Linked DNA regions of Homo sapiens. Each later gene encodes a partner of the first gene's protein in a complex. Each region holds a gene or a part of one and is shown on either strand. Other genes may lie near its edges. The genes, in order: REN and AGT. A codon is read from its position in the direction of its gene.

What was found.
Region 2: the proteins of REN (region 1) and AGT are in contact, whole or in part, in a crystal structure (PDB 6I3F), measured with the Homo sapiens proteins. Residues at the interface, in NP_000528.1 of Homo sapiens: Tyr81 (codon at 2,370), Met82 (codon at 2,373), Thr84 (codon at 2,976), Gln85 (codon at 2,979), Val102 (codon at 3,030), Asp104 (codon at 3,036), Gly106 (codon at 3,042), Ser107 (codon at 3,045), Asn109 (codon at 3,051), Ser118 (codon at 3,078), Arg119 (codon at 3,081), Leu120 (codon at 3,084), Tyr121 (codon at 3,087), Thr122 (codon at 3,090), Val125 (codon at 3,099), Tyr126 (codon at 3,715), Leu147 (codon at 3,778), Arg148 (codon at 3,781), Tyr149 (codon at 3,784), Ser150 (codon at 3,787), Pro181 (codon at 4,844), Ala182 (codon at 4,847), Leu183 (codon at 4,850), Pro184 (codon at 4,853), Met186 (codon at 4,859), Leu187 (codon at 4,862), Ala188 (codon at 4,865), Glu189 (codon at 4,868), Phe190 (codon at 4,871), Val193 (codon at 4,880); in NP_001369746.2 of Homo sapiens: Asp25, Tyr28, Ile29, His30, Pro31, Phe32, His33, Leu34, Val35, Ile36, His37, Asn38, Glu39, Lys91, Leu92, Ala95, Met96, Met99, Leu100, Phe103, Arg107, Arg148, Ala151, Ile152, Gly154, Gln353, Gln354, Asn355, Asn358, Glu391.

Annotation. Positions count from the first base shown.
Region 1 is NC_000001.11:204,154,105-204,164,390, reverse strand, and holds the end of REN (renin preproprotein), read left to right. Parts: intron 1-2,227; coding exon 2,228-2,378; intron 2,379-2,975; coding exon 2,976-3,099; intron 3,100-3,712; coding exon 3,713-3,831; intron 3,832-4,795; coding exon 4,796-4,992; intron 4,993-7,021; coding exon 7,022-7,030; intron 7,031-7,594; coding exon 7,595-7,714; intron 7,715-8,071; coding exon 8,072-8,213; intron 8,214-8,472; coding exon 8,473-8,571; intron 8,572-9,213; coding exon 9,214-9,375; 3' UTR 9,376-9,572; downstream 9,573-10,286. UniProt on the Homo sapiens protein: Renin is a highly specific endopeptidase, whose only known function is to generate angiotensin I from angiotensinogen in the plasma, initiating a cascade of reactions that produce an elevation of blood pressure and increased sodium retention by the kidney.
Region 2 is NC_000001.11:230,702,875-230,713,160, forward strand, and holds part of AGT (angiotensinogen precursor), read right to left. Parts: intron 7,980-10,286; 5' UTR 7,950-7,979; coding exon 7,121-7,949; intron 3,327-7,120; coding exon 3,059-3,326; intron 1,464-3,058; coding exon 1,319-1,463; intron 456-1,318; coding exon 267-455; 3' UTR 1-266. UniProt on the Homo sapiens protein: Essential component of the renin-angiotensin system (RAS), a potent regulator of blood pressure, body fluid and electrolyte homeostasis.

The DNA.
Region 1 (10,286 bases):
TCTCATCTCAAGTCATGCCCCCAACAACTCAGCATTCCCACTTTGCAGATGAGGACACTGAGGCTCAGGGAGGTGATATGTAAGAGGCTAAGCCTCAACACACACTGGGCCTTTTGCTTCCGAAACTGCTTTCCCTTGCTCTGAGGCTCTCGGAGAGTAATTGCTGGGTTGTGAGCACTGGGTAAGAGGATGGGTGCTTCAAAGCAGCTGCACTCCAGGATAAAGGTAGAGGAAAGTAAAAACATCTTCCCCTGCTGTTATCCAAAAGAGAAAAAGAATGGAATTGGGCAAGGGGTGGAGGGGGAATCCAGCTTTTGAAACAGTATTATAGGAATTTTGCTACCCGCTATGTGCAGAGCATCATGCGAGGCACTTGGGACAGCTGAATGAATGAGCTCCATTCTCAAGGTGAACATGTACATATACACACCTACAATTTACATTTATTGAGCAGTGGTCGCATGGTTTCATCTGCACAGTGACTCTGAGGTAGGTACTACCATTAGGCCCATTGTTAGAGAGGGGTTAATGGAGACTTAGAAGAGGCCCAGAGAGGTTAGGTAGCTTTCTCAGAATCACATAAGTGGTAAGGGGATTCAGGCATGCCCCCTGCAACCACTGTCTTCACCACCGTACGGCACCAGTTCCACAAGCTGTACAGTGTGGGCTGTGAGACCCAAGGAAAAACAGAGCTGAGGCCCACGGGAAGGTGAGGCCGGTGTGGGCTGGAGGCCTTGGGGTAAGCTTCCTGGAGGTGGGGGTACATGTTGGGCCTTGGAGGACTAAAGAACTGGGGGGAAAAGGAAGGGAAGAAGGAAAGGATTTTCTGAAAAGGAAATGGCAAGAAGTAAAGGTCCAAAGCATAGGCTGTTGTGAGTAAACAGTGGGAAATGCAACCTCTTTGGGGCCAAACCTCTGACCCTCCACGTTCCCAGCTGTGAAGTGGGAGTAATAAAATCATCCACCTTATGAGAGCAAATAAAATAATGATTGTGAAAATATTTTGGTAACAGTAACCTGTGATAGGAAGATAACAAATCATTTCTGTTACAATACCATGCTGATAGGCATAAAAGTTGCATTCATGTTCATGGGCAAAATGGGGGTAAGTAGAATGCATGGGACGCAAGAAGGATGTAGGAAGGAAAGGGTAGTGTGAGTATAGGAGGACTAGCCACTGAGAAGAAAGTAGAAGAAAGAGGGAATCTTTGTGTGTATGGGAAAGTCTATTGCAGAGTCAACTTGGGCTTCCATCCTGGGACCTTCCCGTGAACAGCTAGAGACATCTTCCTCTGGGCTTTGGCAGCCTTTATGTCGGGACCCAGGGGACCCTATATGGGAAATAGGGCCAGACACATGCTCTGAATCCCTGCTTCAACATTTCTGAGTCACCTTTGTCCCTGTGAGCCTTCATTTTTCTCATCTATAAAATGGATGACAGCTAGCTTGTTGGTGTGATTTCAGTAGCGGCTCAGTAGAGTCAGTTTCCTAGGTCTCTTTAATTCTGCCTCTCAAAGGTGATGGGAAAACATCTAGACAAGAAGCCAAGGGACCGGGACACATCTCTCCAAGGACGAGGTGCATGGCGCTCTGAAGATGCTGGCATCTCTCTAGGCCCAACCCAGCTCAGGGGGTCCACTCCACCACAGCCCTGGCTGGGTGCCTGTCCCCTGGTATCCTGGAGACCTTGCAGCTGCTGTGGGCATCTGCTGCCACCTAGCGGCCTCCCATGGCACTGTCTCCCCGCCAGCCCCTAGTTTTGACAGGGGCACTCCCTGGCATTAATCTCTTCAGAGGGAATGTCTGTGCCTGTTTCCTGTCTGTCCTCCCGCCAGGTGGAGTTCCTTAAAGGCAGTCATGATCATTATCTTTCTAGCTCCAGTGTCCAGCACAGTGAGGCACAAAGTAGTTGTTCAGCAGGTGATTACGGAATAAATGAATGAACGGACCAATAAACAAATAGCCTTGTCTAATCAAAATTAGGCAACAGAAGGAAGTCACTTCAGGGTTATTTAATCCCCGGGCAGCTGACTCCTCTAAATTGACTCTTGACAAGAAGTAACTCTTATAAATGCTCCAGAGGCCCTCAGCGACAGAGGTGATTTCCAGGTGGCTGGGCTAACGTTAAAGGTGGTTGTACTAAAAGCAGGGGTTTGGCCTCAGGGACTCCACCACTGTGGTGGAGGTACAGCACTTTTCTATTTTTGCTTCCTCCACCCTGGGCCAGGATCTTCCTCAAGAGAATGCCCTCAATCCGAGAAAGCCTGAAGGAACGAGGTGTGGACATGGCCAGGCTTGGTCCCGAGTGGAGCCAACCCATGAAGAGGCTGACACTTGGCAACACCACCTCCTCCGTGATCCTCACCAACTACATGGACGTGAGTGCTTGGCTCAGCCCCTCGCTCCCTCCCTGTCTCCTTTCCCTCATGGACCTAGGGCTTTCTTTGCTGCAAGACTCACCCTTTCCAAGCTGTGTTTGACGAAGGCGCTGAGTAGCACGTGAGCACCCTAGAAAATTCCCATTTTCCAGCTGGAAAGCCTGAGCACAGAAGACAGGAAGGCATCCAGGGGCCATTCAGGGGCAGGGTTAGGTTTGGAACTCAGCCCAGGCCTCAAGCCAGGTGTCACAGGTGGGTGGGAAGGGGTGTGTGACTCAGGTGGGGGTTTCTGTGACCTGGCCCAGCACAACCTGATGGCTTCCTGCCCCAGAGGATCCTCAAGAGTCAAGTTTGCTTCCTGCTTCATTCTCAATGTTTTGATTTTGCCCTCTTGTCTTACTGAGACTCCCACTTTCTGGGATGCCATGGGGAGATGCTAAGCCTCCTACCAGTTCCTGCAGGAAAATGGAAACCCCGAGAGGCTATAGGACCTCGCCTGGGCCAAGTCTCACACCGAGAGCCAAGAGTGAAGCCAGGCAAGACCCCAAGACCCAAGGTCCCCTGAGCCCCTCCAGCCCTCTCTTTTTACCCCCACAGACCCAGTACTATGGCGAGATTGGCATCGGCACCCCACCCCAGACCTTCAAAGTCGTCTTTGACACTGGTTCGTCCAATGTTTGGGTGCCCTCCTCCAAGTGCAGCCGTCTCTACACTGCCTGTGGTGAGACCTAAGACCCACAGTGCCTCTCCTCCATCCCCCTGCCCTACTGTGCATGAGCAATCCTGCCCAACACCCAGCTCCCATCCCTCTTGCCACCAAGGGAGTGGCTTCCTCTCTGCCTCTGTGCCCACTGACATGTAGGGGAGAGGGGAAGATGTCTCCCGTTTTTCTGATACAGCCACCAAGGTTAAAAACAAAAAAAGGTCCAAGAACCCCTGAGCACCCAGAAGGCCACTTCCCAGTCTTCCTGAGATTGAGACAGGACTGAATTCTCAAACCCATCCCAGGCACTCGGAACTCTTCCATCCCTAGTCTTAATCAACAACCTCTTACTAGGCACTTACTCTGTGCCTGGCATCTTCTCTGGTGTTATCAGTGTTAGTGATTACTTTAAATTCCTTCATTTAGGACAAAATTCTCGATGTATGGGCACATTAGGAGAGCCCAAGAAACCCAGTCCTTGATTGATGAAGCACATATTCCAAGCCCCCTGACCCTAGGGCCACTCATCCCTGCACCTAAGCTAACCAGCCATACCCACAATGCACCCTGCCTCTGAGTCCCCCTGTCTGGGCCACTCTTGGACAAACCTGAGCCTCTGTCCCCCTGCCAGTGTATCACAAGCTCTTCGATGCTTCGGATTCCTCCAGCTACAAGCACAATGGAACAGAACTCACCCTCCGCTATTCAACAGGGACAGTCAGTGGCTTTCTCAGCCAGGACATCATCACCGTAAGTTGGGCCGCCCTAGGTCATCTGCCCCGGACCCCTTCTGTCCCCAGGCCTCTCCTGACCCTCCAGGGCCCACACCTGCGGGGAGGTACACTGCAGCCCACTTGGAGCCTGGGGAGCTGAGGAACACCCTACTCTGCCACATCTGGCTGTTGCTGCAAAGCAGCAGTACCTATGGGGGAGCAAGCCTGGGCTACGGGCTCACCGTTGGGTGGTTTGTGGATGTTTTTGCATCTAACTTGCATGTAGGGCTTGTCCTGAGCCCCGTGGCTGCAGTCAAGTAACTCGTCCAAGTTCACCAGCTCTGACTGGGCTACACCCTAGACTGAAATCCAGGGTCAGAGTCAGGCTGAGTTTTAGGGTCAGGCATAGGTTTTAAGGTCACAGTTGAGGTTGACTCTGGGACTCAGGTCAAGGCCTGCTTTTCTTTTCCATGTGGCCCATGTCTGACCGTTTCCTCATCCTGGAGTTTCTCAGGCCCTGCTCCATCAGAGTTAGGGGAGGGGCACACGTGGCACCTGAGAGGAAATCAGGGTGATTCCTGCCTCCCTTCCTTTTTCTGTGAACTCAGATATAAAGGAGGGAGAAGGGCAAGCTTGTCTGTGCTAAAGAAACCCTTCGCCCATGATAAGGGTGGGGGCCAAGACCCAGTCCTGCCAGGCACGAAAGTCTGGCCACTGGGGAGGGGAGGAGCTCTTGGCAGCTTTTCTTTTGCTGCTTGGCAGGACCACCCTCTCAGCCTCTGCTCTCCGATCCCTGGTCAACTCTAGCTCTCTCTGGGCTCCGCAGCAGAGATGTGTATTGGCACAGAGTGTGTGCGTGCAGGGTTGAGGAAATACTCTTACCCCGATTTCTGTACCCTGGAGCATGTGTGCCCCTGGGATCCCTAGTGTGGAAGCCCAGACCAGACTCCAACCAAGGAGTGGGCAGTGGGCTTGGTCTCCTCTGGTCCTTCCTCCCACAGGTGGGTGGAATCACGGTGACACAGATGTTTGGAGAGGTCACGGAGATGCCCGCCTTACCCTTCATGCTGGCCGAGTTTGATGGGGTTGTGGGCATGGGCTTCATTGAACAGGCCATTGGCAGGGTCACCCCTATCTTCGACAACATCATCTCCCAAGGGGTGCTAAAAGAGGACGTCTTCTCTTTCTACTACAACAGGTGGGGACTGGGACTCCAAGGGCTGAGGTGGGGGGACAGGAGGGGAGAAGAGATGGGGAGTGGAAGGAGAGTCTGGGCCAGAATTGTAAAGTGTTTGTAATTAGGTGACAGCCAATCAATATCTAGAGCTGTACTAGCCAATATGGAAGGCACTATTGAAATTTAAATTAATTAAATACAGTTAAGCATCAATTAAGCATTCAACTGGTGGCTCTTAGTTGTACTAGCCACACGTCAAATGCCTGGCAGCCACGGTGGCTAGTAACTACAGTCTTATGACAGTGCAGATAGAGAATATTCCCAGCATGACAGGACATTCTAATAGACAGCGCCACTCTGGAGCAAGAGGAGATGCAAGGTGGGGGCGATGGTAAATAAGGGATTACTGTGACCTGTAGCCCTGCCTGTTAGGGCCATGGCTCCTCCCACACAGAGACAGCCAACTTCAGTCATCCATTAGATCCTTCATTCGTTTGTTTGCTCACTCATCAGTTCAGTAAATGCTATGTGCCAAGCACTGTGGTAGGCTCTGGGGGTGCAGCAGTGAACACAGTGAACAAGGCAGAATCTGTACTCCCCTACCCACATAGAGCTTACAGGCTAACAGGGAAGACAAGACATATTCCAACATAAAGAGTGTCACAGGCAGGCAGCAAGTGTGGTGCTGAAAACCATGGATGCTTTTCAATTCTAGGCTGAGCTTATATGCAGCTCAGCCAGCCTTGGGGAAGCTCTTGAGCAGGGTTGGGCTCTACTCCAAACTGCTGGGCTTAGAAAGATGGCATGAGTTGGAGACAAGAGAGCTGGAGGCAAAAGGGGCTGGGTGCAGTGGCTCATGCCTGTAATCCCAGCACTTTGGGAGGCCAAGGCGAGAGGATCGCATGAGCCCAGGAGTTAAGGCTTCAGTGAGCAGTGATTGTGCCACTGCACTCCAGCTAAGGCAACAGAGTGAGATCCAGTCTCAAAAAAAAAAAAAAAAAAAAAAAAGTCACAAGGGTAAGAACATGAGGCCAGTGGCAAAAAGAATAGAGGAGAGGATCAGAGTTCAGAGAAATCTCACAGTAAAATGGAGAGGAGTCTCCGGTTTGGTGATAGAAAGTGAGGCCTTGAGAAAAGGCCAATTGGCGGCTCTGCATTCAGGGGTGGTCTTTAGAAGAACTGTTTTAGAGGAAGTGGGGGCAAGGCCAGATGGCAAGAAGTTAAGAGGTGGACGACGTGGGTGTCAGGAAGTGGAGGTCATGAGATGTAGGCTGCCCTGGGACATTCAACAGGGAAGGGAATGGGGGGTGGCGTGGGGGGTGAGATCCAGAAGCAGAAGAGGAAGGGTGGGTGTTTTTAAATGCTAGAGGATGCTCGAGTGATGCCTGTAGGTGGAGGAAGAAGCCAATGGAAAGAAAGAGATTAAAAATGTGGAAAGAAGAGGAGCTAAATGGGGGCACTGGAGTTTGGAGGCCTTGAAAGAGATGAGGTTCCAGCAGACAGGAAGAAGCCAGGTTTTGCAGAGGAGAGGGCTGGCCTCTTCTTTTATCTTGGGATGGGAAGGAGGGAACATCCAGAGAGATACTGAAGTGTTGAGAGACAGGCAGGAGGGAATTTGTGCTAGCATATACACATACATTCCGAATTTATAAAAACACAAGTAGTTTGCAGTTGCACAAAATAACATATGCACACCTACACACCCATGCACACATGTGCATGTGTGAATTCTAGTATGAATTCTGGAAAAACACATCACACACACAGGCATGCCCTGGAGACTAGGCCTACAGTAGTCCCTGAGCCAAGTGCAGTGAGGAGGAAAGGAAGGTGAGGGGAATCAGCTCCAGACGGGGCACCAGGAGCCTGGCTCCAGTCCCCCACTTGTTCACTCATGGACTGGGTAACTTCAGGCAAGTGACTTCGCCTCTTGGTGACTCCATTGCCTGAAGGGCAAAGAGAGTACATAACACCCACCCTGCCAAACAGCAGGGCTGATGAGGCTGGCATGAAATGAAGCTTCCTTTCTGCTGTCTCTCTTTCTCTGCAGAGATTCCGAGTAAGGAGACAAAACCCCCACATGGCTGTGACCTTCCAGTACTCCCCGAGCACCTGACCTAGAATTACACACGCCACCGGCCCAAAACTCACATCAGCAAGCCCAGCCTCCGCTAGATGCCGAAGTTCTCTGTCTCTCCTTCCTGCTCTCTCCATGCCACCTGCCCACCCCATACCCAATAGCCTCCCCAGGGTCCCCTCCCATGCACCTGCTCAATCAGCAGCAACCCAAGAGTGAGGGGTGTCCATTTGTGTCTTGTTCACATCCACTCACTGTCCTTGTACCTGCTCCTTTTCTGTGACCTCTCTGGGGATGCTTTTTGGGGGAACAGCTGGACTACCCTGGAACAACCTCTGGTTGGTCTTGGGGAGGGGAAGAAAGGCAGAGAAGCAGTATGTTCTGCATGCTTCCCAACGACAGCTCCGAGCCTGGCTGTCTGTCCCACATTCCTCTGCTCTAGAGCCCTCTGTCCTCCCCTGCACCCTTGTGCAACCTTCCCCAATTGCCTGAGTTGCTGGGTCCTGGAGGTTATGGGTTTCCAAGAGCTTCTGATCTTTCCTTTAGGAATTCCCAATCGCTGGGAGGACAGATTGTGCTGGGAGGCAGCGACCCCCAGCATTACGAAGGGAATTTCCACTATATCAACCTCATCAAGACTGGTGTCTGGCAGATTCAAATGAAGGGGTCAGAAATCCTCAACCCTCCCCGGGCTCCAAAAAATGCTGCCGTCACTGGGGTTGGGGAGGGTGGGGAAGGACTGCATTACCATCCTGCCCTCTTTCCAAATGCAGCCACTTCTTAAGCACAGCCACCATTTGCTCTCTGCCTGCTCTGTCCAGGCTGGGGAACAGAGAAGGGAGGGGCCTGGGGAGAAGTGGTGGAGGGTGACAGTACCTTCCCTCCTCTACTCACTGCCTCAACAGGCCACCAGCGTGGCCTCCACCCACCCACCCACACTCAGGAAGGACATGCAGCCTGGAGGTGCCCCATCAGCCTTCTGTCTGTCTGTCTGTCTGTCTGTCTGACTGTGGCCTCCCCCAGGGTGTCTGTGGGGTCATCCACCTTGCTCTGTGAAGACGGCTGCCTGGCATTGGTAGACACCGGTGCATCCTACATCTCAGGTTCTACCAGCTCCATAGAGAAGCTCATGGAGGCCTTGGGAGCCAAGAAGAGGCTGTTTGATGTAAGAAGCCAAAGAGGGAAGGTGCTGTGGGTGGGGGGAGCGCCACCTGGTATCGGCTCACAAATCCCCCAGGCAAATGAGGCCATCTCAGGCCTTCGCTTGTTCACCTCACACTCTCCACACATGTGGCTGGTCACCCATGGGGCGGGGCACTGTCCCCAGCCCTCTCCAGCAGAGAGACCAGGCCACCAGCGCAGGACTCCTTGTCTGCTGAGACGTCTTCCATACTCAAGAAGGCTCTCTTTGCCCCCCACCCCAGTATGTCGTGAAGTGTAACGAGGGCCCTACACTCCCCGACATCTCTTTCCACCTGGGAGGCAAAGAATACACGCTCACCAGCGCGGACTATGTATTTCAGGTGAGGTTCGAGTCGGCCCCCTCGGTGGCAGGGAGAAAGGCTGGACAGAGACCCTCAAAGAGTGACAGATTACAATGCACAGGTCATGTTAGAACTGTAGTTCTCAAACTTGGCTGTGCATGTCACCTGGAGAGCTTTGAAAAATCCTGGTACCTGGGCCACATCCCATACCTATTAAATCAGAACCTCTAGAAGTGGCACCTGGGGTTCAGTTTCCCCAGGTGATTCCAATGTGTGGCCATGTTTGGGCATCACTATGCCTGTTCCCTCATCTCCATTTTCTCATCAAATACTCCCAAGAATCCTATGCTCCTATATTCTTACCCTCTTTTCATAATCAATAGGCTTAGAGAAGTTGAATAACTTGTCTAGGATCAGAAGCTAAGGCAAACTGTAAGCTCCTGAAGGAAGCACGGTGCCTGATGCATTGTTTGCCTGGGATCTAGCACAGGGGCTAAACATAGGAGTGGTGCAGTCCACGATGGGGCAAAATGGCCATGATGTGAGGGAGGCCCAGTGTGGCTAGGGGAGAGATGGGGGCGAGAGGGGGAATGTTGCTGAAGACAGTTGCTGGGGGTCAGGCAAGGTGAAAGGAGAATGCTCATGTGCTGGGTATGGAGAAACTCTCCCCCTTCCTGCCAGGAATCCTACAGTAGTAAAAAGCTGTGCACACTGGCCATCCACGCCATGGATATCCCGCCACCCACTGGACCCACCTGGGCCCTGGGGGCCACCTTCATCCGAAAGTTCTACACAGAGTTTGATCGGCGTAACAACCGCATTGGCTTCGCCTTGGCCCGCTGAGGCCCTCTGCCACCCAGGCAGGCCCTGCCTTCAGCCCTGGCCCAGAGCTGGAACACTCTCTGAGATGCCCCTCTGCCTGGGCTTATGCCCTCAGATGGAGACATTGGATGTGGAGCTCCTGCTGGATGCGTGCCCTGACCCCTGCACCAGCCCTTCCCTGCTTTGAGGACAAAGAGAATAAAGACTTCATGTTCACAGCCTGTTGCATCTGGGTTCACTAGGGTTTAGAACAGAGGGAGGGGCTGCGTGATCATGTGTGGACAGGAATGTGACACAGACAAGCTACACATTCGCCTAGCGCACAGGTTCTTGCGTGCAGGGATGATGCCATCCATCTGCCATCAACGGGACTCAGGTGGAGCTGTTTACACAACCTCAGGTGGGAAGTCTGAAAAGAGCCGGAACCAAGCTCCCTCTAGTCCCTCAGGGACCAAGGCTAATGCTGTGGCAGTAGACTGTGGGTCAGAAAGTTCTCCCAGCTCACAGAAGCCAGCTCTGAGTTCAGACTCTGCTCTGCTGAGCTAGTCAGCCCTGTCTCTTGTCCCTGCAAAACTCCCCTCAGCTGTCCTTATCCACTGCAGATGCCCCCGCCCTGCCCCATGTAGCCATTTACACAGGCATTCTAAGGCACTACCACCTAAAATCATAGAACACCAGAGATCCAGGCAATACTTCCACTTTACAGGTGGGGAAACTGAGGCCCAGAGAATGGAAGGCCTTGCCCAAGATTACTCGGTCAAGAATCAAGTAGTGAAGAATACTGAAAGATAGTGAAGAATCAAGACTGGAACCCAGCCCGTCTGACTTGGGTCCTGGGGGTTTCCACCTTATCATAAGCAGTTGGTACCGTCATAAGTACAGTGCTTCACGCACGCTGGTACAGGGCCACGTGCACAAGCACACAGGTGCAC
Region 2 (10,286 bases), about 27 Mb from region 1:
TCCCCACCCCCATTCTCTAAAATAAACCCAGCAAACTGGGAGGTGCATTTGTGCCGCTGCAGGCTTCTACTGCTCACTCCATGCAGCACACTTAGACCAAGGAGAAACGGCTGCTTTCCAGCTCAAAGTCGACTCATTAGAAGAAAAGGTGGGAGACTGGGGGTGACACATCGCTGATTTGTCCGGGGTTGTTATCTGCTGCTGGCCTTTGCCTCAAAGGCCAGGGGCAGAGGCCTTGCCAGGCACTGTGTTCTGGGGCCCTGGCCTCATGCTGTGCTCAGCGGGTTGGCCACGCGGCCCAGGAAGTGCAGGGCAGTGGCGCTTTGATCATACACAGCAAACAGGAATGGGCGGTTCAGGGTCACCTCCAAGACCTCAGGCTTGTTAAGCTGTTGGGTAGACTCTGTGGGCTCTCTCTCATCCGCTTCAAGCTCAAAAAAAATGCTGTTCAGCACCTGCAAAGCAGCAGACATCAGGATCATTCTGAGGGCGCACTGGGTGACCCAGGGTGCTGAGGGCTAGAGGGCCGGGGTGGGCTCAGGACCTCTGTGCTGTGCACTGTCCTGGAGGGGGACATTTTCCAGCCTGCCAGGAGGATGCACAGTGTATGCCTGCCCCTCAGTGTAGGCAAGGGTGTGTCTGTGTGTAGATGACCGTTAATTGGCCACAATGGCCAAACTCACATGCCGGCTCCTCCCTAACACACCCCTTACATCCTCCCATCTTCACATTCTGCCCTGATGTCCCAGGCAGAATTCCTGGCTCCCTTGGCCATGGCCCACCAGTGCCAGGGCTTAGCTAACTTAGCACAGAGGGCTCTTCCCGCTGGCCCCCGTAAGAACTCCCACTTTCTCCCCAGCACTGAGCACAGGGCCCAGAACATCAAGGCACATCCTTGGTAGCTGCAGATGTGCATGGTGCCACATGGCAGGGGGACATTCTGTCTGCTGCTCAGCATTTCCCTGAAGAAGGGGCTGGGCCCAGGGCACCAGGTCCAGGGGTGCTTGCTGTCTTCATCCCGGTTTCAACTCCACTATAGGAACCCTGGAGGACCCTGAGGCAAGGCAAGGCCAAGCAGGACCATGGAACACACACCTAGCAGGAGGAGGCACAGCAGGGATGGGGAGGGATTTGCTGCTCTGCACCTGGAAGGCCCCAGAATGCTCTGGCTACTTCTCTCCCACCTTTGGCCCTACTCTCCGCTCCCTCTTGCCCTGCTGGCCCCACCCATAGCCTCCTCTGTGTCCCTTACATCCATGCCTCCCACCCTGTGCACACTTGGAACCCAGGTCAGGCACAGACACAGGCTCACACATACCTCCCCCACCCTGATGCGGTCATTGCTCAATTTTTGCAGGTTCAGCTCGGTGTGCAGAATGGCGGGCAGCTCAGCCTGGGCGAGCAGGTCCTGCAGGTCATAAGATCCTTGCAGCACCAGTTGGGGCATGGTCAGGTGGATGGTCCTGGGGAGATGATGCACAGTTAGGAAGGCTCCAGGCCACACAGTGAGGGCTCTCCCAGAGGCCAGGCAGGCTTATGCTCCTTGCACCCAACCCTGACGACAGGGATGTTTGCTCCCCCCATCACCCAACTAAGTCATCCTCCCCCTTGGGGAAAATTTCAGCAAAACCTACAATAAAAATCCTTCATGTCATTTGCAATACTATGTGAGGGACATAGAAGATTTACCGATGAGGACCTAGGAATGGTTGTCCTTTGGTGCATTCTGTTTTTAGGTTGGCTGCATTGAAGGTGTGTTACTTGGGTAATTTTTAAATGCTATTCTCTGAAATAATGCACTGTGTCTTACTACTGCCACAGCAGTGTTCTTGATGACATGACACCCATGAAAAGGAGAGAGGCAGGAGGGTACAGTGTCAACCTCGTGCTGGACACGTTGCTATGTCAACTCGATTGATCTTCGTATAGAGCCTCTTCCATCTTTTGGCATCCTTCAGAGCCCATGGACATTTCCAGTGATGTATCAAGCACTTATAAGAGCTGACAGTACACCCATGTTTACAGGGTACACTGCACTATTCACAGCAGCTCAAAGGTGGAAGCAACCCACGTGTCCATCGATGGATGAGTGGATACACAAAAGGTGGTAACCACATGCAATGGAATATTATTCAGCCTTCAAAAGGAAGGACATTCTGACATGTGCTACAACATGGGTGAACCTCGAGGACATCGTGGTGGTTGCCGGGGCCAAGGGGAAGGGGAAATGGAGAGTTAGTGTTTCAGCAGGACAGAGCTTCAGTTTGGGAAGTTGAGAAGATAAATGGAGATGGACGGGGGTGATGGCTGCACAACAGTGTGAATGGGCCTAGTACCACTGAACTGTGCACTCGAAAATGGTTACGATGGCAAATTTTGTTACGTATATTTTACCATCACAATTTTTAAAACATAAAAAACACCCAGAGTTGATGTCAAGCCATCGTGTCACTCAATGCCTGCCTCTGGGAGCAGATTTCCAGGCCTCGATGATCTGGGGTGATGTGTAGTTTGAGTCCAGGGCTCTGTGGAAAGGAATTGCAGCAGGAAAGAGGAGCTAACAACACCTATCCCCACCCAGCCGCCAGCCGCCAGCAAGGGCGTTCTGGAGTCAAGGGACGCTCCCTGAGAAGGCCCCACCCCCGCTCACGCGAAGTCCGAACCCTCCTGGCAAGTCAGTTCCAAGAAGCTCTTGGATGTCACAGGTGTGCTGTGTGTCAGGTGTGGGACCAAAATGGTCCTCTCTCAGAGGGCGGATTGCAATGTTTTCTCCCCCTCCAAAACTACCAGGCAAGTGTAAGTGTAGAAAAAGCATTCTTCCTCTCCTCCTTTACCTTGCCTGCACTTGAAAGACAGACACTAACTGGAGAGCTGGGTGCTGGCTGGATAGAGGACTGGTAGACAGACACACAGGCCGCCTGCCCAGCCCCGTGCCACCGCGGCCCTGCCCTGCTCTGCACCCAAGGCTCAGCTCAGGTGTGTCTACTCCCCACCCCGCCCCCAGCCTGGGCAGGACAGTGTGGCTCCCACATTCCAGGGGAGACCGGGAGGCTCCTACCGGGGAGATAGTTTCTTCATCCAGTTGAGGGAGTTTTGCTGGAAAGTGAGACCCTCCACCTTGTCCAGGTCAGAGGCATAGTGAGGCTGGATCAGCAGCAGGCAGGCGCTCTCAGTGAAGGGCACTTGAGTCACCGAGAAGTTGTCCTGGATGTCACTCCAGTGCTGGAAGGTGCCCATGCCAGAGAGCATGGGAACAGACACTGAGGTGCTGTTGTCCACCCAGAACTCCTGGGGCTCGGCCAGCAGGGAGAAGCCCTTCATCTTCCCTGAAATCCAGACAGGAGACAGGGAGGGAAGAGTCACCCAAGACAGGGGCAGGAATGAGGGCTGGCAGACACCAAAGGCCCAGATCCTGCCCCTCGCCCTGCCTCAGCCTCCTTCCTTGGCCCCCCCCAGGCCACTCTGCATTCTCCTGGCCACAGGACCGCAAGTGTGGCTCAAATATTTCTCCTGTAAAATGCAGCCATTTGAGTTCACTGAGGCAGCCCTAACCGCCACCTGCAAGACACACAACATGCCAGGCACCAAACCGGGGGTTTTGCATCTGTCACCTTAAGGGACATAAGCCACTGGTACCTGCCAGGTCAACTCAAACCTAGAACTGTCCTGACCCAAAGGCTGTGGTTTGACACACTCACTTTTTAAAAAATTTAAGAGATGTTATTTTTTAGAGTGACTTTAGGTTCACAGCAAAATCGAGCAGAAAGTACAGAAAGTTCCCATATAACTCTTGTCCCCCACTACACAGCCTCCCCCGTGATCAACATCTCACACCAGCGTGGCCCATTTGTTGCAACTGACGAACCTACACTGACACGTCCTCAGCACTCAAAGTTGATAGTTTTCTTTGAGTCTCCCTCCTGGTGTTTTACATTCTGTAGGTTTGGACGCACGTAGAATGACATGTGGCCACCACCGCACTATCCCACCACTCCTAGAGGCCCCTGCTCATACTCACTTTTTAATCCATGTCTAGCCCCAGCCATGGCAGAGCCCACCAGCTGTCCTGTGGCCCCCACCCTCCCCCATCACAGTCATAGAATACAGAGTGGGCCACGCAGGCCCCGGAAACGAGGGCTCCATTCCTCAGCAGCCCTTGCTACTGGGGAGACTCACACAACCTCGTTGTGATGAATGGATTTGCACACTGGGCCTTGGGGGCAGGGGTGAGCCCTCTGTTTCCCCTCCTGCTCACAGGGCCGTGCAGATGACAGAGAACTCGGGAGAGCCCGTTGTGGGAGAAGGACACAAATTTGTGTGTGACGCAGTTACCTGGGGTCTTTCCATGACAGCAGCCCACCCTCTGCCTCGACCTTACACTAGCACATCCCTGCCCTCGGCTGTCCTCCCACTCATCCTGAAAGGCCTATTCTGCGGTTGTTCTTAGGAGAATAGGGTGAAGTTGTGTATAAGTTTGTCACAGAACAGTCCCCTGGGCACGTGGCACTTGGGAGTCTGAGTAGAGATGGTTCAGAAACAGTGAGGTCTCCCTTTGTACTGAATTGGAGGTCCCAGCATGAAAGTAGGGCAGCTGGGAGGACAGAACTGGCAGGCAGGAGCTGGGCATGGCTGTGCCTCCCCTGGGTCCGGGTCTCGTAAGAAGGCAGTGGCAGACCTGGCATATTTCTCGTCCTCAGTCCTCGGAGCACTCAGTCTCGGAAGGGCATGTGAGCGGGAAACTGCAGGGTTCCCCTTGCACGTTCCCTGCAGGGACCTCGGTGCTGCCCACCTGGGCTGGCAAGGCTTTTAGTTTAGAGGGGGGAAAGGGACAATTCTTTTCTTCCAACAAACTAAACTAAAAAAGGGAAGCTGCCTCCCAAAAGACGCTGGGATTTGACATGAGAGTGGCTGCCGTCTTCCCTCTGCTCGTCTGACATGCACAGCTCACCATTCTCATCCGGAGGCTAGGTAAATCTGTCGAGGTCAAGTCAGGACCTGGTGTCATGGAAACCACCAGGGCCAGCGCCCCATGCTCAGGAGCACAGCAAGCACTGGGCAGACGGTACCCTGGAGCCCATCAGGCCCCAGATCCTCAGGTCCTCTCTAGTGGGACACATCTAGCTGCCTGCTGAGGTCATGTAAATAGAACATCATTGCTAAAGGGAAACCTAGAGGTCCCGAGACAGCCCCCGATCTCCTCACTGGACAGACCATGTGGGCAGGAAGTGGCTGCCTCCTTTGACGGAAACTGAGGCCAGCAAAGTTAGGAAGTGGGGCAGGGTCAGGGCAGCATGCGGTGGAGGCCGGCGAGGATCCTGGGCTTCCTTTGAGTCCCGATGTGGTTGGCTTTTTTATTCTTCCTCCTCTTCCTCCTGGCCTGGCTCTGCGGTCTGGGTCAGGTGGATGTGCTCTCTTTCGAAGGGAGACCCATTTCAGATGCCACTGGCTTTCTTGCCTTTGCCTTCTGCAGGACCCTCCTTCTCAGTGAGCGCTCCTCCCAGCACTTCTCCTAGGGACAGCAGGCTAAGTCCATGTGTCCCTGCTCTGCCCTGCACAGTGTGCTGCCACCCTCAACCGGGCAACCCTCGGGCTGGCCTCTGCCCCTGTGACCAGTCAGTGCCAGGGCTGAGCAATCCCCCCATCTATCACCTCTCCCTGAACCCGAAGGGAAAGACCTCAAGGAGGTTGTTGTGGTAAGAAAAATCACTATGCGCCACTGAACCTCTTTCTCCACAGTCTTGTCTTTCACCTCCCGCCTGGCTCTCTGTCCCTCACGAGGTTAACATCTTGACAGAGCCTCCTCAGTGTCTCTTAGACACACCCCTCAGCCCCACCCCACCCATGGATTTGCCGAGCTGCTCCCTGAGCACGTGTTCCCGTGACTGTGTGCCTGGACTCTTGCGTAACCTTCAAACAATCCTCCCTGCCTCCAGTCTGCACACGGCAGGCTTCCGGGATGACCTCTGAACAGAACGCGTCCCCATTCCCACACCTACCAAGCATGGCGTTCAAAGTGTCTCCAGCTCTGCCCTCCCCAGGCCCATTTTCTGGTTCAACACTCATGCCAAGCCAACCGCCCCATCCTCGTTCCTTGCCCCAAACTCTGCAGGCTGGGCTCATCATGCTTGCTCCTAGCTTCACCAGCCCTGTTGCCCTCACTGCCAGGCAAGGCCTGCTCTCCGCTCCCCAGTGACCTCTGTCCTCTGAGAGCCCCGAGGCTTCCCTGAGTTACCTTGTGGAGCACGTTTCCCTGCAGCTCCAAATCCTAGGCATTTGCCCATTGACCTTTAAAAGCCTGGAGGCAGGGCCTATACAGCCCTCCTCTGGCCTCCTCTGAGATGCCAGGCTTAAAGTCTTACAAGTAGCAAATCCTCAACAAGTATTTGTTAAATGAATGCTTTAAGCAATCTGTGGCTGGGTGCAGTGGCTCACACCTTTAATCCCAACACTTTGGAAGGCAGAGGTGGGAGGATCGCTTGAGGCCAGGAGTTCAAGGCTACAGTGAGCAATGATGGCACCACTACACTGCAGCCTGGGTGACAGAACAAGACCCTGTCTCAATAAAAAAAAAAAAAAAAATCAACAATCTTTGTAGTAGAGGGTTTTCAGTAATGCCCCTCCTAACATGAAAGGGATTTAAGCAAGCCAATTGCTTATTTCTGCATGGGCCAGGGACCCCAGTTCCTGACCTTCTCAAGAGATATGAACCTGACCCTTCTGAGTGTAGAACTGGGCTGTGGGGCCAGGAGATGTGGGTTTCAATCCCAGGACCCCCACTGGTGGCTGTGCCATCTTGAGCAAGGCACTTTGTTTCTCCGAGTCTCTATTTCTTCACTGGTAAACAAAGGCACAAATACCTCTTCACCACATCATAAGGGGATTAAATGATGTAAGAAAAAGGATGTTGTATAGTCGTGCACATAGTAGGGCAGCAGGTCCAGGAGGTGGACGGCCCATCCAGGGACCCAGCGGAGCAGCCACTTCCCCACTTCTCAAGGGTGGTCACCAGGTATGTCCGCAGGGCTGCCCCCTGCCCATCTCCAAGGCCTGACTGGCTGATCTCAGCTACACATTGGATACTAAGTCCTAGGGCCAGAGCCAGCAGAGAGGTTTGCCTTACCTTGGAAGTGGACGTAGGTGTTGAAAGCCAGGGTGCTGTCCACACTGGCTCCCATCAGGGAGCAGCCAGTCTTCCATCCTGTCACAGCCTGCATGAACCTGTCAATCTTCTCAGCAGCAACATCCAGTTCTGTGAAGTCCAGAGAGCGTGGGAGGACCACAGGGGTATAGAGAGCCAGGCCCTGCACAAACGGCTGCTTCAGGTGCAGGCCTGGGGCTGTGAACACGCCCACCACCGTGGACAGCAGCAGCTGGGCCTGGCTATCAGCCCTGCCCTGGGCCACTAGCAGGCCCTGTACAGCCTGCAGGGCAGACAGGACCTTGTGCGCATCCAGCCGGGAGGTGCAGTTCTTGTCCTTCCAAGGAACACCCAGGATTGCCTGTAGCCTGTCAGCTGTGTGGTCCAAGGCTCCCAGATAGAGAGAGGCCAGGGTGCCAAAGACAGCCGTTGGGGAGAGGACGGTGGCCCCATGGACCACGCCCCATAGCTCACTGTGCATGCCATATATACGGAAGCCCAAGAAGTTGGCCAGCATCCCGACCATTGCGGCCCTCAACTTGTCTTCGGTGTCAAGTTTTGCAGCGACTAGCACCAGCTGGTCCTGTAGGGCCTTTTCATCCACAGGGGATGTCTTGGCCTGAATTGGAGCAGGTATGAAGGTGGGGTCTTTGGGCTTCCCGGCATTGGCCTTTGCCAGCTGCTCACAGGTACTCTCATTGTGGATGACGAGGTGGAAGGGGTGTATGTACACCCGGTCACCTGCAGCCAGGCCAGCCCAGGCCAGGAGGCAGAGGATGGTGGCCCTCAGGCTCACACCGGCAGGAGCCATCTCAGACTGGGGTGCTCGCTTCCGCATACCCTGAAATATCATTTTGCAAAGGGTGAAAGGTGGTTATTAACTGACCTTTAAGTGCCATCTAACCAGATCTTTCATTGTCTCAATATTCCCTGTCACCATTTAGCCCAGAATAAATCCATTCATGTCTACAAAAAAAAGAAGAAATGGATTCAAAGCTCCATGGAAAATATCTACATGATCCAAGTGCAAAATGCACCAATATCAGCTGAATTATGTCCTACCTCCCCCAACGGCCATAATGCCCGTGTTGAAGTCCTCAACCCCAGGACCTCAGAATGTGACCATTATTTGGAGACAGGATCTTTAAAGAGATGATTAAGTTAAAATGAGGCCATGAGGGTGAGCCCTGATCTAATATGACCTGTGTCCTTATGAGAAGAGGAGATGAGGACATGGACACACACAGAGGGAAGACCATGTGGGGACACAGAGGGAAGACCATGTGGGGACACAGAGAGAAGACGGCCATCTACAAGCCAAGGATAGAGGACCCAGAGGAAACCAACTCTGCTGATGGCTGGCTCCCAGGCTTCTAGCTTCCAGAACTGTGAGATAACACATTTCTGTTGTTAAACCCTCCCAGTCTGTGGTACTTATGGCAGCCCAAGCAGATTAAGACATGCTCCTGCCTGCAGCTGTAAGTTCTCTTCCTAGAGAAACAAGTGTGTGCCAATCAGTAGGTCTTTGTGGAGGCCTCCTAGACCCCTGAGATGCTCATTCGAGGGCCCTAGGGTGAGGGCTGGGGATGGTTTTGTCATCTCCCTGTGGTCCCAACATGCAGCCGGGATTGAGCACCACAGGCTCAGCCCAAAGTCCAAGTATTTCCCACGTGTCTCAACCCCAAAACCAGCTCTCAACCATCCCTGCATAGCGCTATCCCCTGCAGAGCCCCAAAGGCATGCATACCTAGCATGGCTTGCCCAATGATAGTTGGATTCCTTAGTCTGTGCTGGGACCACGTATAAAAAAAAAAAAAAAAAAATAGAAAATTCTCAGGTGACTCTGATATGTAAGCAGGGTTTAGAACCCCTGCCCTAGACACGGGTCCAGCACCACGTTCTCTCAAAGGCCTTGCAGCTGGGCTTCAGCCTCAGCTGCTACAAATGAAAGCTACCCTGAGACCCCCAGAAGAGGTTCTTGGGCTGGCCCTGCTAATTCATTTCATCTGACTCTTCTTGATTGAAGGGATGAACGTTTATTCTATTGATTCATTCAATTCTAACATTTTGTACCACATCTCACTCATTTCTTGTGGAGGGGGGTGTACTGCAATATCGTCACTTCTTGGCCTTTTCTGTCCCCCCAGGGCTAGGCCAGGCTTCCTTGGAGCTGTAGCGTGTCATCACTGACTCAAGGCCACCTTGATGCCTAGATTTTTCTGCTTCATCTAAGCATACCCAGTCATTCTTCTTACATTGGCAGCTGGCTTCCCTCACCCAGACCCGTAACCAGCACCTGCCCTCAACACGGTGCAGCTGCTGAAGTACCTGGTGTGTTTTGTTCTGCTTCAGTCATTCAAATGCCAAATTCTGACCTCAGCTACCATCTCACCCCACTCCCCATGCATTTGACTCCATCCGCTGTTCTCAGGAAGAGCCACATGACATGGAAAAATGGAACAGAAAACTCTCTCTGCTGCTTGCAGGCCTTTCTGTGCAGAGAAGCCTAAGCCACCAGTTCACACCTAATCTAGACAGTCACATCAAATCAGGTCAACAGGGGAAACCTGTGGGAACCGACTGCTGGGAAGTCCTGCCTGACAAGCGCCAACTGTTCGGGGTTTGGATGGCGCTGGTCGATGCAGCCCGCTCACTGTGCTGCTCCTGCTCAGGCAGCGTCTCCAGAGACGCAATTCCATGGGCCATTTTTGAGGCAGAGACTGTCGTTTGTTCTCAGTTGTGATCTGCGGCTGCTCCCTAGGCTGGTTCCAGGTCTGCACGCAGCCGCGTCCTGGGAGTAATGGTGCTCTGGGGTGGCGGGCCTGACACCCTCGCCCTGAGTGCCCCTCCGCCTTCTCCTCTCCTGCCCCTGCCTCTTGGCCAGCACCTGCCCCTTCTATGTCTCCCTACTTCTCCCGGGCTGAATGCTAAAGGTGAAGATGACGGCTCATGCTCCTGTGGTGCCTGCCATTTGCAGGGCACTGTTCTCATATCAACCCCTCTGACCTCACCATAGTCCTCACCTTCCCTGAGGTTTCCCTGATGCAGTATTTCACCCTGCAGCTTTCCCCACCACACCGGGCACTCTCAACTCTCTCATCCAGCTCCCCTTTTCCCTCCTTATAACCCTCTGTACCATGTAGTTATG